Linked DNA regions of Homo sapiens: region 2 is linked to region 1. Evidence: fine-mapped expression QTL. A gene starts in region 1. The other region holds a variant in brackets. All regions are shown on one strand. Distances are between the middles of the regions. Region 1 holds the start of LINC01011 (long intergenic non-protein coding RNA 1011). Region 2 has its middle 11 kb from the start of SERPINB9.

What was found. PIP is the estimated chance that this variant, and not a neighbour inherited with it, causes the effect.
Region 2: its variant is the best candidate, but not a certain one, in a credible set for the expression of LINC01011 in testis (GTEx, PIP 0.81).

The regions. Positions count from the first base shown.
Region 1 is chr6:2,985,192-2,990,567 of GRCh38, forward strand. LINC01011 (long intergenic non-protein coding RNA 1011) reads left to right here and starts at 2,776. Exons shown (of 3, transcript NR_026856.1): 1 at 2,776-2,840; 2 at 4,337-4,542; 3 at 4,678-5,376. It overlaps NQO2-AS1 (NQO2 antisense RNA 1), which reads right to left. Exons shown (of 2, transcript NR_186367.1): 2 at 4,145-4,820. RefSeq lists enhancers at 2,718-3,527, 3,528-4,337, 4,338-5,147, 4,711-4,870, 5,148-5,376 and a silencer at 3,721-4,140.
Region 2 is chr6:2,911,898-2,917,273 of GRCh38, forward strand. No RefSeq gene overlaps it. Among named protein-coding and RNA genes, the nearest start is that of SERPINB9, 11 kb to the left of the region's middle. RefSeq lists an enhancer at 4,485-5,027. The variant C/A (reference allele first, on the strand shown) is at 2,624.

The DNA.
Region 1 (5,376 bases):
CTGGCACAGGGGGTGCTCTGGGAGACAGAGGCTGGAATTGGACTGCATTGCAGCCAGGTGGCCTTGGAGACCCAGAAGGGTGCCTCCTTGGGCAAACTTAATGTTCCCCCTAAAGAGATCCCTTTGAAGATCCGCATGGCTTTCACACAAAGGGCGTGGGGTTTAGTTCCAAAACGTAGGCTTGGGTATTATAGAATAAAAGCAAAAGAGGGCACAAGATGTGCATTTTCATTATGTTTACTTAGTGAAGGGTGGGCAGACATTTTCATTATTTTTGGGTTTTTTGTTTGTTTGTTTTTGAGACAGAGTCTTGCTCTGTAGCCCAGGCTGGAGTGCAGTGGCAAGATCTTAGCTCACTGCAACCTCCGCCTCCTGGGTTCAAGTGATTCTCCTGTGTCAGCCTCCTGAGTAGCTGCGATTACAGGCACCCATCACCACGCCTGGCTAATTTTTGTATTTTTAATAGAGACGGGGTCTCACCATGTTGGCCAGGCTGGTATCAAACTCCTGATCTCAGGTGATCCACCTGCCTCAGCCTCCCAAAGTGCTGGGATTACAGGCATGAGCCACCGCGCCCGGCCCATTTTCATTATTTTTAAACAAAGGCGAGCAATTCACTTTCTGGGTGCCCACCTGAAGTAGAGAATCCCAACCCCTTACCATGAAAACAGATAATCTGTTCACTGAGCCCCAAGGACAAAGCAGCCAGGGTCGACTGAGGGGCTACTGCAGCCTTCCTCTCTGACTCCTCCCACCTAACCATTCCCTCAATACCTCAATACACACACTCCTTTCTTTCCCAAGTCTATTGCCTCTTCCAAAAGCAATGTAAGATCCGCCCCAGAACAGTGGGGAGTTCTTATCCTTTCCGTTACCTAAGCAACCTGAGGGCAAAGACCTTTAGATCACCGGCAGTGCTGTTCTTTGGGTAACTTGATCTTTGCTTATCAGCTTTAATAACTTTATTATACGAAATACCCAGCCTTGATGAAGTATCGATGACTCACTAACTGTGGTGTAACTAATTGTTTCATTCATTCTACAAACTTTTTTTTTTTTTTTTGAGACAGAGTCTCACTCTGTTGCACAGGCTGGAGTGCAGTGGCGCGATCTCAGCTTACTGCAACTTCCACCTCCTAGGTTTGAGCGATTCTCCTGCCTCAGCCTCCTGAGTAGCTGGGATTACAGGCGCGTGCCACCACACCCGGCTATTTTTTGTATTTTTAGTAGAGACGAGGTTTCACCATGTTGGTCAGGCTGGTCTCAAACTCCTGACCTCGTGATCTGCCCACCTTGGCCTCACAAAGTGCTGGGATTACCGGCATGAGCCACCGCGCCTGGCCTCATTCTACAAACTTTTATTCTGCACTCACTATAGGCTGGGAGCTACACTAGGGCCTGGGGACATGAAGACAGGCGACACGGTCCCTGGGCTCAAGATGCCAGACAGATGTGCAAACAAGTGAAATCTGATGTGATATGTGCTTTAGTGGTGCCAAGGATAAAAGGATAAGTGTTAAGAAAAAGTAGCAACAATATGTCTGACTGGGAGAATCAAGAAAGGTGTCATAGAGTCCCTAACACTTGAGCTGAGAATGAGAAAGAGCATGAGCTGGCCAGGTGACACACAGAGCATATTCCAACCTAGGAGACTGGGAAATGGGCCAAAATATATACGTTTGAGGAAACAAATAGCTTACTATATAATTAAATATGAGGCAGTTTAGACTGGGCCCTTATGGATAAGTCACACCCATAAATTTTATTTCATCTTACAGGCAGTGGAGAGCCTCTGGAGGATTCTGAGCTTCGTGGTCTCATCATCAGAGTTATGTATGGCAACCATCCCAACCTTTTTGGCACCAGGGAGGGGTTTTGTGGAAAACTATTTTTCCTTGGACAGCAGAGGATGGTTTCGGGATGATTCAAGCACATGACACTTCTTGTGCACTTTATTTTCAGTGGGAGCCCTGAGCTTGTTTTCCTGCAACTATCTGGCCCCATGTGGGGGTGATGAAGACAACGGCAGATTATCAGGCATTAGATTCTCATAAGGAGCGCACATCCTAGATCCCTTATGTGTGCAGTTCACAGTAGGGTTTGTGCTCCTATAAGAATCTAATGCTGCCTGATCTGATAGGAGGCAGAGCTCTGGTGGTAATGCAAGCAATGGGGAGCAGCTGCACATACAGATAAAGCTTCACTAGCTCACCCACTGGTGGCTCACCTCTTGCTGTGTGTCCTGGTTCCTAACAGGCTACAGACCAGTCAGGTCTGTGGCCCGGGGGTTGGGAACTCCTGGTGTATGGAAGAGACTACTCTGCAGCAATGTGGACAAATAGGATGAGGGTGAGCTGTCAGGGGAGACAGGCACACATGGCAGAGCTATTTAAAAAGGAGGATAGATGACCAGGCACAGTGGCTCATGCCAGTAATCCCAGCACTTTGGGAGGCAGAGGCAGGCGGATCACGAGGTCAGCAGTTCAAGACCAGCCTGGCCAACATGGCAAAACCTCATCTCTGCTAAAAATACAAAAATTAGCTGGGCGTGGTGACATGCGCCTGTAATCCCAGCTACTCAGGAGGCTGAGGCAGGAGAATCACTTGAACCCGGGAGGCAAAGATTGCAGTGAGCCGAGATCGTGCCATTGCACTCTAGCCTGGGCAACACAGCAAGACTCTGACTGGAAAAAAAAAAAAAAAAAAAGGAGGATAGACAGGGCTTGGGGATTGGTGGATGGGTAGATAAGGAAGGAGGAGTCTAGCATGACTCTCAGACTACTGACTTGGACCAGCAGGGGAATGGCTGTGACAATAAATAAGATTGGGAAAACAAGAAGGTGAGCAAATTTAGAGGAGAAAATGAATTTCATTTTTGGCATGGTGTGGAAGGCTCGGGAGAGAGGTCTAGGCACCAGATGTCAACGTGAGGTGAAATGGATATAGCTGAAGTCAAGGGTGTGGTGAGGTTTTGCAGGGAGAGCAGGGACCTCCAGCAAGGCCAGTGCATAAGGGAGAATAGAGAAAAAAAGAACCAGAAAAAGACAAGGAGAGGCCAGAGAGGTGTGGAAAGAACCAGGGAAGACAGTTATTCACAACAAACAAAAGAGGGCAGAGTTTTAGAGAAGGAACTGAGCAGTTTGGGGCTCCAGGTGGGGCAGGAGTGGGTGGCCACGGTTGAGGGGCAGTGGCCTTCAAATTGGTCTGGGTAGGTTCTAATGGGTCAGATTGGTCAGTCCTTTCCAGGACACTGAAGGCTGCAGAGGTGTGACTGGATGCTGGTGGAGGGATGCATGGCGGGGAAGCTGAGTCAGATCCTGAAATCCTCCAAGCATGCGCCTGAAATGACCAAGGGAAATGAAGGCGGAGGCTGCTGTCGCCTGGTGGCCTGGGAAGGGCCAAGAGCCAGGGAGCTGGAGGGAGGAGAGAACGTGCGACCTCAGCACGGAGCACTGTAGGGGAGGCGGGGCTGGAGGGAGATGGCGCCGCGCTCCCGGATGAACAGAGAAAGCGACAGGGTGAGTCGCAGGGCACAGTGTGGGATGAGTCACCGACAGCAAGGCATGGACTCCGGGAAGAAGGGGAGACGAGCCGGGAAAGACTTGCATCGGGGATGTGAGCTGAGCTGCACCCAGACAAAAGCGGCTCGGGGCTCCTGAAAGCAGCAGGCACCGCCGGTCCTGCCAAGGGGCTACTTCCTGCGCGGAGTAGGAGAGTAGGAGACCCCAGGCCAGTCCCAATCCCCGGCCCGTCCGGGATGAGGGGGGCTGCGGGAGCTGCGGGGGCCTCCTCCAGGGAGGACGGTTGCAGGGTCCCTCGGCCGCCGCCCACTCCCGGGGGCGTTCCTTCCTCCCAGCTGCGCCCGGAGCGCCTGCTGCCTGGCGAGAGCCCGCCCCTCTGCAACCAGCCCGCTGCAGCGGAGGGCGCCTGGGTGCCCTCGGCCGAGCCAGCAGCCCACGGTCGGCGCCGCACTGTCCCCTGGTGGCGGAGCGCTCCCGCGACCCGGCTCGCCACGCCTGGGAGGGGTCCAGGAGGACGCGGCTGGGACCTGGGGGCTCTCAGGGTGGGGCCTTGGGGGATGAGGCTGGGGCCCGCGGGAAACCGGGCTGGGGCGAGGAGGCTCGCAGGACTTCCTGCCACAGAATGTTTCGATGCTTTTTTTAATTCTGCAAATGTAAGCCTTTCCACTTTAAGTCCAAGCTCAGCGCAGAGGACTGTTCTATAATACATACAATTTAGTTTAAAAATGTTGCAAATGTTAACATGTGTCACAAACTCAAGCAATCCAGTATTATAGAAAGCAAAGAATGAAATGTGCTGCTTCTTTCTCCCCCAGACGCCCTTGCATACATTAAGATATGTATATATGGAAATGTTACCGGGAGTCCCGGTTATCCCAAAAAGGGTTGTTTCCTGTTGCGTGGTGAGGCCAATGCACGAAACCGAAAGGGAGTGTGTCAAGCAGTGCAGGCTGTATTCAATGGCTATGGAATTGGAAGATCTGAAATCAACTTAGCTTGTGAGAGCTGGGAAGTTTCAGAGGTAGGGTGTCTTTAATGAAGGGGCTGGGCATTAAGAGCACGGGGGGGAATATTCGTGCTTTCCTTGGGAAAGAACGGAGATTTTTCCCGGAATCAAGAAACCCCTTTTTTTCTGTCCCTTCTTGGTCTCTTCCAGTCGTTGTCATGGCGACATGTTGTTTAGCATGAGAACAGGATGATGATAAAGCCAGAGGCTCTTCAGAGGCGCCATCTTGGATTTCGCCAGCTTCAGCTGGTTTCGTCCTAAGAAGGAACTTCGAAACACAGGCATTCTTTTTCCTGAAAATAAGCAGAGTTACAGCTGAGTAGGAATTTAGCTCTGTCCCATATGCTATCGCATTGGGCAGCAAAAGCAGGGTGGGGTCCAGCGAAATCAGCAGGCACTGCAATGAGTAACATACCCAGCCACGTTTATGCAGCATTTTTACGAAAATGAAACCATACTACCTGTAAAGGAAGATATGCTAACAAACAACAAAACTGGCAGGAACCAAGATTCCTACTGACACTACCCTTAGTTTTAATTTTCCCTGACAACAAATGAGGTTAACAGAGCATAATTATCTACCGTGACCCCTTCAAAAAGACAGGCTGTATACATTTGCACTAAGAGAAGAAATCGTGTAATGTCAGCAAATTTCCCCCACTTAAAGCTTCTCTATTTAAAAAGCTTCACGCACACATGCACGCATATGTCTTCAAGATGACCACAATTTATTTTGCAGTCATTCTTTGCACCAGTTCCCAATTTTTCCCACTAGCTTGCAAGCTCCGTGACTCGAGGAGACCGGGGGATCAGAGTTTGTTTTTGCGGAGAAGTGAGTCCTTTATGCCC
Region 2 (5,376 bases), 73 kb before region 1:
AGCTTTTACCGGCTGATGTGAAGGTATGAAAAGGCCCCTCTGTGGAAGCACAGGAGAAAAACATGCCATCATTCTCCCCATGTGATAGGTACATTTCCACCTGTCCCTATGAGCACCATGGCCATGGCAGAGGAGATGCTCAGGGGCAAGAAAAACATATTTCATGAGTTGCTCTCATCACCCTCCTCCTTAATAAACTGCTGGCAAAAGTGCCATCTGGGCAGGGCGCAGTGGCTCACGTCTGTAATCCCAGCACTTTGGGAGGCTGAGGCGGGTGGATCACTTGAGGTCAGGAGTTCGAGACCAGCCTGGCCAACATGGTGAAATCCTGTCTCTACTAAAAATACAAAAAATTAGCCAGGCGTGGTGGCACACACCTGTAATCCCAGCTACTCAGGACGCTAAGGCAGGAGAATCACTTGAATCCAGGAGGTGCAGGTTGCAGTGAGCCGAGATTGCACCACTGCACTCCAGCCTGGGTGAAAGAGTGAGACTGTCTCCAAAAAAAAAAAAAAAAAAAAAAAAAAAGTGCCATCTGCACCTGAATTCATCCACCAGGGAAGGTCTGGATCAGAAGCACATCAACCAAGCCCTCTATGGCCACCTAGTCGTCAGTCCCCAGTCAGTGAACACTGGGGTGTAGCCAGCAGAATAATGCCCCTTGCCAAAGATGTCTTACCTCCTAATCCCCAAAACCAGTGACTGTCTTACATGGCAAAAGAGATTTTGCCGATGTGGTCCCTCTAGTTAAGAATCTTGAGATGGGAGACGTGCTGGTTATCTGGTATTATGTTCATTTTAAATGTTATTGTAATCAGGTTCTTCTGGCCTGTGTGCTCAGATCAAAGCCAGGTTTCCCAATGACCCGGTAGCCAATTTGCAATGCTTAAATATGGTTTATTGCCAGAGACTCACACATACCCAATCAATCGAGCAAACATTCACAATACAATTATTTTTTTCATTGTTTCTTTTCCTGTGAGTGATGGGAATGACATGATACAATTACTAAAGGCAGTAATGAGCGGAATGGCAAACCCAGGCTGTGGCTGAGGAGGCCAGCACAGCAGACACTCCTCTCACACAGAGCCTCTGGGCAGCCCGTCTCACCGGGAGGAGGCACTTTTTTTTTTCTATTATAAGTTTTAGGGTACATGTGCACAACATGCAGGTTAGTTACATATGTATACATGTGCCATGTTGGTGTGCTGCACCCAGTAACTCGTCATTTAACATTAAGTATATCTCCTAATGCTATCCCTCCCCCCTCCCCCCACCCCACAACAGTCCCCAGAGTGTGATGTCTCCTACAGGCAGGAATTCTCAAGGTGCCTCTGACAGTGTCAGTTCCTTGCTGGTTTTATGGTTTTCCCCAGGTGTGTCCGTCATCATCATCTCAGCCACCTTTTGGCTCCATTTTCTATCGGTTCCTTTTGGGTCTCAAGTGGTACATGCCACAGCAAATGTAATCTCATCTCTTATACATATGTTTATCGCCTTAAAGAAAAACAACTTTACTATGAGCTCAGGCTCAGTCTAGTACACATACGCTTACCACTTTAAGGAGTAAACAACTTCACTGTGGGCTTCATGCCACTTGAAAACCAAAAAGTATCTGAGGCAAGTCTGGATCAATTTAGAGGTTTATTTTGCCAAGGTTAAGGGCATGCCGATGACACGGCCTCAGGAGGTCCTGAGAACAGGTGCCCAAGGTCAGGACACAGCTTGGTTTTATACATTTTAGGGAGACATGAGACATCAATCAATACGTGTAAGATGTACTTTGGTTTGGAAAGGCAGGACAACTGGAAGCAGGGGCTTCCAGGTCATAGGCAAACCCAGAGGTTTTCTGAATCAATAGAAAGGAATGTCTGGATGATGATAAGGGGTTGTGGACACCAAGCTTTTATCATGCAGGTGAAGCCTCCAGGTAGCAGGTGTGAGACATAATAAACCGTAAATGTTTCTTATCAGACTTAAAGAGTCTGCTCTATCAGTAATTCCAAAACGGAAGACTGCATAATGAGGCATGTCCGGCTCCCCTTCCCATCATGGCCTGAACTAGTTTGCAAGTTAGCTTTGGGCCTTTACCGAGAGGACGGGTCCATATAGAGGACTGAGGGCTTAGAATTTTATTTTTGGTTTACACACATAACACAAGCCACTCCATTTTTAGACATTAGGATCACAAATCATTCTTATAGATCATCTGGGTGGGCTCAGTGTGATCACAGGTCCTCATGAGAGAGGGAGGAGGGCCACAGCCAGAGGAGACGTGAGGACAGAGGCAGAGGTCAGGGTGATGCGGAGCCACAAGCCATGGAACACAGGCGGCCTCTAGGAGCTGGAAAAGGCCAGGAAGCAGATTCTCCCCGGAGCCTTGGGAGGAATCAACCCAGCTGACCCGTTTTGGAGTTCTGACTTCAGAGCTGTACGGTGTAAAGCTCGGTTGTTTTCAGCCATTTGAGGTTTGAGGTAATTTGTGATGGCAGCAATAGGAAACGAATACACTGGCTTAGTCACAGAGTAGCCAATATGGGGCCTCAGCAACAGGACTGCTGCAGGGCTCACAGGCACCCTCAGAGACCAGCTGGCTGTACCCGCCCCTAGTGCAAACAGGCAC[C/A]GCCCTAAGTTCTTTATGTGCCTCTCAGCTAACCCTCACTATCACACACCGAGGCCCTGCAGTAAGTACCCACCAAGATGAGGAGACTGAGTTTGTTCCCGATCTCCTAGGTGGTTGGTGTCAATGAAGTCAGGGTTGGAAACTGTGATTTGATTCCACAGCCTGCATCCTTGATCATTCCATAAAATCCCGATTGCTGCTAGCTCCTTCCCAATTTGGTGTCACTAATATAATTTGTAACCACTGTTCTGTGAATAAAGAATGTAATTCTCTGTAAATAAAAACTACATTTTTTTTTTTTTTTTTTGAGACAGCCTCACTCTGTCACCCAGGCTGGAGTGCAGTGGCGCAATCTCAGCTCACTGCAACCTCTGCCTCCCGGGCTCAAGTGATTCTCCTGCCTCAGCCTCCCAAGTAGCTGTGATTACAGGCATGCACCACCAGGCCCGGCTAATTTTTGTATCTTTAGTAGAGATGGGGTTTCAACATCTTGTTCGGGCTGGTTTTGGACTCCTGACCTCAGGTGATCCACCTGCCTCGGCCTCCCAAAGTGCTGGGATTACAGGTGTGAGCCACCGTGCCGGGCCAAAGCTACATTTCTAAAAAATAAAACTAAAAACTACATTTCTGTCACCATGTCATGTGAAACAGCTGGACAGATCTCACCAAATCTGAAGGGTCCATTTGAGATGTAAAATAAGGGCTATGTTGAAGAGACAGTTACTTTAAATCTGGGAGAGTCCACAGAGAGGTACCACTTCCCCCGGAGTTGCTGAAACTAGGCTAGGGAGCTGTCCAGGGCAGCCTTGGCATAGACATCAAATATGAAGCCCAAATCCCACGTGGAAACTTGAGTTGGAGGTGTTGATTTGGGGCCAGTCGACACATCACTTGGGGCAGGTCCAGGAGGTATGCTTCCATGTGAGAGTGGCTGGATCACCCATGTGCACCCTGGAAGGTAGAAGGAAAAGATGTGCCTGAGAGAAACTTTATTACTAAATCAAAAGTTACTACAGGTTACTATCAGTTATTATAATTTTAGCAAATTTTTATAAGTCCAACATTAATTATTTCTTTTTTTCCTAGACAAAGGCTTGCTCTGTCACCTAGACTGGACTGCAGTGGCACGATCTCGGCTCACTGCAACCTCTGCCTTCCAAGTTCAAGCAATTCTCCTGCCTCAGCCTCCCGAGTAGCTGGGACCACAGACCTGCACCACCACACCCAGCTAATTTTTGTATTTTTGGTAGAGGTGGGGTTTCGCCATGATGCCCAGGCTGGTCTCGAACTCCTGACCTCAAGTGATCCACCTGCCTTGACCTCCCAAAGTGCTAGGATTACAGGCGTGAGCCACCACACCTGGCCTAATTATATCTTTCTATTAAGCCTTACCTAATAATAGTAGAGTAGGATTCTCTTTGGCTGGGTCACTATTCAATAAAATATTAAAGTTCATCCATGTGCCTCTGTTTCCCAAAGTCTCTTTGCTGTTACTATTGAGGACATTTTAGGAAATGAAGAGACAAATCATCCACAATCCAATAACCCTGCAAGCTATTTTTCTATATTATGTTATCCTCTCTTTTATCATATGCATGTATATTTTGCTCACATTTTTTAAAGCCACATAAGAAATGTATGTTTCCATTTGGAAAATTAGAAAATATGCAAAGCAAGAATTACAGAAAACTCTATGCAGAGATAAGGATCATCATGCATGTGCTGACTTTTATAAACAGGGTATCATCCCCTGATCTTGCTTCTTCCACATCACCAGTGGACTGCAGTGCCTCACCCTGCAGTTGTGAGGCTATACTCCCTTAAGCCTTAGCAGGGGTCTTCTGAGTCTCTCAGGGGCACGATGGGAAGGAAAAGGAGCTGAGTGGATGAGGCGGGAGATGGGAGACAATTATTTCAAAGAGTGCACCTCCACTGTCAGATGTTTTGTTTTAGCTTTCTGCTAAAATATTTTTTAAAAGGGAGTGCCTCACACTTAAAAAAGGCGTGAAGGCCATTTTTACATACAGAACAACAAACAGGCCAATCAGTGCAAATTCTTTTACATTTCAATGAGTGAAAATGTCAGCCAAGAAAATGCCATCTAGTGATATTTGCACAACAGTACCCTACACATAATAGGTCATGATTCTAGAACAAAATGTGAAAGTTCATCCATTGTCCTCAAATAATCAAGCCTCTGGGGAGCCTTCCAGGGCAGCAGCTGCTAGAAGGTTGGTGTCTGTAGTGTCTCCAGCACAGCAGGGTCTGGTCTGTGTCCAGGCTGCTTCTGCCATGCTCAATCTCACCTTACTCTTGAAGGAAATAAAAGGCTAGGAAGCCAGAAGAAATACTCACACTGAGGGCACTGGCCCACCAGGGATGGCATTAGCAAAAGAGACTCAATGAGGATGAGAAAACAGAGATGACAGAGACCCAAATAACATTTGAATTGGACTCTACCTGCAAGTGGAGCTTTACCATCCAGGTGAGGCAGTCATAAACCTAGGCTGGAGTGTGTGTGTGTGTATAATCATCCTGTCGGAACAGGCAAAGGAATGAACTGGAGTACCCATCAATGTTGACTCTCCATTAAACTGCTCTTAATTCCTTACAATCACGTACTTCTGGCCTCTCCTGTCTTCCCTCTTCCTCCCTCTCACTTCCTCACCTCTTTCCTTTCCAGCCTGTAGGTACTGGTCATTATCTACCCCATAGCAATGACACACACACATGCACACACTCACACACAAGTG